Linked DNA regions of Homo sapiens: region 1 is reported to be linked to region 2. Evidence: microRNA targets listed by miRTarBase, many of them from high-throughput screens and not tested one by one. Region 2 holds a microRNA gene; the other region holds the end of a gene's coding sequence.
What was found. The annotated mature microRNA hsa-miR-6752-3p reads UCCCUGCCCCCAUACUCCCAG and lies in region 2 at 2,197-2,217, shown strand. An mRNA with a match to its seed (bases 2 to 7 or 8) in the 3' UTR can be bound and repressed. Matches are read on the target gene's strand: a 7mer-m8 pairs with bases 2 to 8, a 7mer-A1 pairs with bases 2 to 7 and ends in A, and an 8mer does both.

Region 1: miRTarBase lists PAIP2B as a target of hsa-miR-6752-3p. The part of its 3' UTR that is shown has no 7-base or 8-base seed match.

The regions. Positions count from the first base shown.
Region 1 is chr2:71,185,493-71,189,008 of GRCh38, forward strand. It overlaps PAIP2B (poly(A) binding protein interacting protein 2B), which reads right to left. Exons shown (of 4, transcript NM_020459.1): 4 at 1-3,043. The coding sequence ends at 2,987. Among named protein-coding and RNA genes, the nearest start is that of PAIP2B, 40 kb to the right of the region's middle.
Region 2 is chr11:67,488,099-67,491,098 of GRCh38, forward strand. MIR6752 (microRNA 6752) reads left to right here and starts at 2,147; the gene lies at 2,147-2,217. It overlaps AIP (AHR interacting HSP90 co-chaperone), which reads left to right. Exons shown (of 6, transcript NM_003977.4): 3 at 1,169-1,357; 4 at 1,940-2,116; 5 at 2,218-2,359; 6 at 2,690-3,000. The coding sequence ends at 2,895.

The sequences.
Region 1 (3,516 bases), not on the chromosome of region 2:
AGGAATTTGATGCTGCAGTGAGCTATGGTCATACCACTGCACTCCAGCCTGGGTGACAGAGTGAGACTATGTCTCAAAAAAAAAGAAAAAAAAAAAAAAAAGAGGGACCCCAGCTGCTGTGACTTTGGAAACTAAAGGTGTTAACAAAGGTCAAGCCTTTCCTTAGGATCGTTTCTGGTTTCACCCTTATGTGATTCCCAAAACTCAACTATTATTGTCAGAAACTGGCCCAAAGACCCAGGGCTGCATTTGCCCAGGCCTAGGCTGTATCCTTGAATTTTCTGCTGCAGTTCAAAGGCCTGGAGAAACTGAAAATGCATTCATTTGGGTTTTTTCCCTTGAAAAGAAAGAGATAAATTATTTTCATCTTGGAATTTTAGAGTTGAATAAATAATCCCAATAATTACAGATCAATCACTAATAAACTAACATTGGGACCAGCCAGATTGGCAACTGTTAGAAATACATGTTCCATTTCTATACAAATTCTCAAACTTCTAGTTGCCAATTTAAAAAAGTTTAAACAAAGTAGTGGCTTAAATTCAACATCAAAATTACCCCTTATAAATACAAGTCTTACCATTAAAGGGTAAAGGTGTCCAGTCTGGCTTGCTGGTTCTTCTTCTGTGAGAAAAGTCACTGACAGCCAGAGGCTCCCAGCCTTTCCCCAGTGAAGGTCCAACAAGACACACATGCATTTTCTGCTAAGAAGGTAGCAAACTCTAACTAGCCTGTGTTGTGAGTGACAATTGTGCCCCTACCTCCCAACATAAATAGATGGCAAAAAGAGTTGGACTACAAGAGGAACCGCCGGAAGCAGAGTCCTATGCATTTAAAAAAGAATCAATTTGCTAGCTGCTTCCTATACCTGGAGTCAGTATGTTCAGTGTCTGAAGAAGACTAGAAATGCCAGCCCTCAGTGTCCATGCTAAACTGGCAGGAAGTTTTCATAGTCCTGAAGACTGACATCCAAAACAGACCAGCACAGCAGAAGGAAAGACAAGCTCCTTTCTCTCTGCAATCCCAACGCATTTCTAACAGCCTTCGGAATTCTGAGCTTGGACAGGCTCACGAGGATGAAGGAGGAAAAGCAGTCCCAGAAGGGAGAGATTTCCTCTATGCACTTGCAATGCCCTTTCCCTTTTAGAGGAAACAACCCAGCTGAAAGCTGAAGCTTGAATAAAGAAGTTTCTTTATTCATAGTCCTCTCTGAAAAAGAGTTAACAGTTTCATTCTCTCAACATAGAGGCTTTGGGAATTAATGTGTCTGTCTGGTAATGCAAGTTCTCTAAGCTACTCTCCTATGACATGTGACCTAACAAGGAAGGCAATTTTTTCAAATGATATAATCCTAAAGACTCAAATAGGAAAAAATGTGTATTTTAAATCTGGCATTAGCTTATCACTGTTCAAAAAGTCAACGAGAGCTCATAAGGAGAATTTCTTCAGCTTTCCATACCCTAGTCCTTTCCTTCCAACCTCTGTCCCACAGCCACATACTGAATTTATACCAACTTTGTTTCAAGTTACATATCTTTTCCCTATTAGGCCTATCACACAGCACAGTAGCAATCAGAAAGAAGCCACTATTATCTTCAGGGCTCTCCAATTCCTCATCCCTGGGAGAATGGCCTGGATGGCTCTCCTGTACCCCACACTGCCATCTACATCTCTATACACGAAGGTAGCTCCTGGCACCCAGTTTAGTTCCTTAGGGGTAGCAACAAAAGACCCCAGCAAGTTAAAGGCAGGAAAGACAAAGAAACACACCCTAAGAGGTCAATCTACAAAACTTGCAAAGCTGGGTATGTGGGAACAGTAAAATGTTTTAATAGCTGAAAAGATCCCAGAAGGTCAGGTACACAGTCACATGGGTCAAGCAGGACTCACTTTCCTAGGCTGATTTTGAGTTCCTTTCCATAATTCTGTAATGTGGGAAGAAATATCCAAACTGTGAACTGAGCTTCTTACTAGTGTCCTGAAAAATATTTCCTTAAAAAAGTGCATAAACTTGTCTGAGGGAATTAAGACACCAGGAAGACCAAGTGTTGATGAGGCTGGAAAAAAAAACTGTCCAAATAAAATTAAGACACAACAGATTCAAGGATGACTTCTGCAGGCTCATGCTAATTGCCAGCACAGCAGGCCTCCCCTATGCCTTTGGTAGCAGTATCTTTTCTTAAAAAGGAGGCTGGGGAATAGACTTCATGAAAGATGAGGTGGCAGATCAACCCTAGTGCTCTTCTACTTATAAATGGTGAGTCTGATGGTGGTGGTGAACACAGGCTTATGAACAGGACAACAGTAACTAAATGACTCAAGTGACAACCACCATCACAGCCCTACCTTCTGATTTACAACTTTCAACAATCATCAAAAGTTACTGTAAACTAAGTACTTTAAGTCTGTGTTTTCTTGAATGGGGTTCAGGACAAACAGGCAAGGGCTTGACAGCACATTGGTTATCCGAGTTCATTGCAGGAGACCCCGGGGGTGGGGCAGCTGAGCCTCAAATTCCAGTTTGCACCACCTGCTCTTTCTGCTTGTCCCTTTTCCCATCCAACTCAATAGATTCCACAAAAAGCTCTCCAGGTGCTCACTGTCCCTGATAAGTATACAGCAGGGTGAGAGGGGCATTTCCTAAATATCCAGTTTTTCTTAGTCAGCTTATTTTGTTTAAATACACACCGCGGAACACTTCTGATGAAGGGGGGAAAATGCAATTTCCTTAACTCGAAAGAGCTATTTAAAAAAACAAAACAGGAAACTCCCCAAACAAAAGTCAGCAGAACAAAATAGAAATACTCAGAGGCTTAGAATAAGACTGAGCATATTAGTTACTCAGAGTCACAGTATTGTGAGACCACCACTCCCCTTCCCGCTGTGCACCCCTCGCCCGCCCCATCCCCCTCTTCAGCTCCACCATTTTGTGCATTACTATCCCCAGATGTGGGGACAGACAAGTCTTCCTCAAAGCTTTCTCGGCTCAGTACTTCTCTCCTGGAATAAACTCCTTGGCATCTGGGTTCAGGTTACTTTTGCTCTGAAATAAGAACCAAGAGATAGTAAATCCTAAGGCAAGCTGCATTTTAAAACTTACCCAGTCCATCATTATCAGTACCTTCCCCTTAGCTTTAGGGAGAGAAAGAAAATTCCTTGTAACTCAGGCTGTTATTGCTAGGTTATCTCAACTGCACCTGACATAGCCCTGAGCAAGCTCATCTTCTCCTTCCTTCTTTGGACTCTTGTTTCCTTCCTGATGCTTTCCAAAATCTCATCAGAGGCCTGTAAGTTCAACTCCAAGAATAATTTTTCAATTCACTGAGTACCTTAACTTGGTGAAAACCAGGGTACTCCATCAGACCAGGCTGGATACCACAATCTCTATTTTTCTTCATCTTTCTGTACTCTCTTTGGTTCTCTACTCTCTTGTGAATATCCAAAACCTTAGCAAACCACAGGGCAAGATTGTTCAGAATATGAGTTGTATGAAAACTATATTGCTCACAGACTTTT
Region 2 (3,000 bases):
AGCTTATTCCTGGGTCACCACCTCTAGGAAGCCCTCCCTGACTGCTAGTGGTTGGCTCAACTCCCATGTTTGGGTCCTCCAACCCTCATGCCCTGCATGGCCAGGATCTGCTCTTCTGCCTTGTCCTAGGCTATTGCAGAGCAGGGATCTGGCCTGTTTACTTCTAGCTTTGGGATGCCCAGCGCGAGCCAGTCCAGAGCCAAGACTCAGGAAATGCCCGCTGATGGCAGCCCGGCAGTCAGCCCCTGTCCAGACAACAGGGCAGTGGGAGGAGTGGGGAGGACCCGGGTAGGAGGAATCTGGTTATCTGGTTCCCACCAGCCTAGCAGCTTTGCCAAGCAAGAGATTAGAGGCTAGGTCCCCTATGCCTGTCTCCCTGTGGGGTTTTTTTTTTTTTGACTAAGTCTCACTCTGTTGCCCAGGCTGGAGTGCAGTGGCGTGATCTTGGCTCACTGCAACCACCATCTCCTGGGTTCAGCTGATTCTCTGCCTTAGCTGCCTGAGTAGCTGGGATTACAGGCACCTGCCATCGTGCCCGGCTCATTTTTGTATTTTAGCAGAGACGCGGTTTCACCATGTTGGTCAGGCTGGTCTTGAACTCCTGACCTCAGGTGATCCGCCCGCCTTGGCCTCCCGAAGTGCTAGGATTACAGGCGTGAGCCACCACATCCGGCCTCCCTGAGGGTTTTGAAGTGGCTGGCCTGGGCCCAGCTCTGAGGTAGGCCCTCAGTGGGGTGTGGGTGGGGCAGAAGGAGGAGCTGCTGGGAACAGAATGTGGGGGGCCCCAGTTCTTTGCATAGTCCAGCAAAGGGCCTTATCCTCTGGAGGGAGAGGAGGTAAGAATTCTACTGGGCCTGTAAGGACCAGGGAGACAGGGGTTGATGGTAGGCATGTGTCTGTGGTGGGGGTGAGGAGGGGGTTAGGTGCTCTGTTTGGTGGCCAGAGAATGTGGCAGAAGCTGGGGCTTCACCAGGAGAGAGGGCTGAGCGACTGGAGGAGTCCTGAATTAAAAGCCTCCTGTGCTTAAACGGAGTAGGGTCCCAGTTGTCACTCTCTGGGCCTTGGTGTTTGTTCTCAGATGGTGGTGGGGAAGGGGGCTGGGCCTTGTGGACCCGGTGACCAGCCAGCCCACGGTGACAGAGCCCCCGGCGCCCTTGCCTTCCCGCAGCATGTGGTCCTGTACCCGCTGGTGGCCAAGAGTCTCCGCAACATCGCGGTGGGCAAGGACCCCCTGGAGGGCCAGCGGCACTGCTGCGGTGTTGCACAGATGCGTGAACACAGCTCCCTGGGCCATGCTGACCTGGACGCCCTGCAGCAGAACCCCCAGCCCCTCATCTTCCACATGGAGATGCTGAAGGTGAGGGGCCACCGCGCCTGGTCTCACCAGGCCCCCACTGCCCAGCCTCAGGGCGGCGCTGGCCTGTCCACCCAGGGGTGGTGGGATCCGCAGGTGGACTGCTGGGGGAGCGGACAGAGACAAGAAAACCTGTGCAGGACCCTTGGCAGTACCCTGGGTCTCCTTTCCTCCTCCTTCACATCTCAAATGTCACCTCCTCCAGGAAACCGGCCCTGCCCACCCGGTCTCCTCATTCTCTGTCTCGCAGCAGCTCATTTCCTTTATAGCCTCTGCCGCACCTTGAAGTCCCTTGGAATTCATGGATTTCCTTGTCCATTTAGGGAACCTGCCATGCAGCATGATCTCTGCGAGGGCAGGGCTTTTCACCGTCTTGTTCACTGTTCTATTCTTAGCACTTGGCACAGTGCTGGGCACACAGGAGATGTGACATCGATGTTTGATGCTTTTTGAGTGACAAGTAGCTCTGCTGCTGGTGTGTGATGTCTGGGGGCCCAGCCAGCCCAGATGTGGGTCAGGTCTGCTGCTGACGGACGCAGCTGTGGTGTCCCCGAGCCCCGCTGTGATATGCCCCATGCCCTGCAGGTGGAGAGCCCTGGCACGTACCAGCAGGACCCATGGGCCATGACAGACGAAGAGAAGGCAAAGGCAGTGCCACTTATCCACCAGGAGGGCAACCGGTTGTACCGCGAGGGGCATGTGAAGGAGGCTGCTGCCAAGTACTACGATGCCATTGCCTGCCTCAAGAACCTGCAGATGAAGGTACTGCCTGGAGGCTGAGGGGGAGGATGGATGGAGGGGGGTGTGGAGCCAGGGGGCCCAGGTCTACAGCTTCTCCCCGCTCCCTGCCCCCATACTCCCAGGAACAGCCTGGGTCCCCTGAATGGATCCAGCTGGACCAGCAGATCACGCCGCTGCTGCTCAACTACTGCCAGTGCAAGCTGGTGGTCGAGGAGTACTACGAGGTGCTGGACCACTGCTCTTCCATCCTCAACAAGTACGACGGTGAGCACCGGGCCCTGGGCTGCCGGGGGCTGCGAGTGGTCAGAGAGTGGCCTTTCTCCTGTCACTGCTGGGGTCAAGACCTAGCCTTTCACAACCCCCATTCTGAGCTCCCACGGGGGCCTGACTAAATGCCTCTACTCGGCAGGGCTGTGGGCCCCATTGTGCCAATGAAGCATGAATGGTGTATTGGGGGTGGGGTGGCATCCTCAGGTCAGGGAGGGCTCTCTCTCCCCTGTGGGCCCATGGTGCCAGGAGACATGAGGGCAGGCAGCTGGCCAGGATCCCCCCTCATGCCCTTGCATGCCCACTGCCCACTGGCCTCCCCTGCAGACAACGTCAAGGCCTACTTCAAGCGGGGCAAGGCCCACGCGGCCGTGTGGAATGCCCAGGAGGCCCAGGCTGACTTTGCCAAAGTGCTGGAGCTGGACCCAGCCCTGGCGCCTGTGGTGAGCCGAGAGCTGCGGGCCCTGGAGGCACGGATCCGGCAGAAGGACGAAGAGGACAAAGCCCGGTTCCGGGGGATCTTCTCCCATTGACAGGAGCACTTGGCCCTGCCTTACCTGCCAAGCCCACTGCTGCAGCTGCCAGCCCCCCTGCCCGTGCTGCGTCATGCTTCTGTGTATATAAAGGCCTTTATTTAT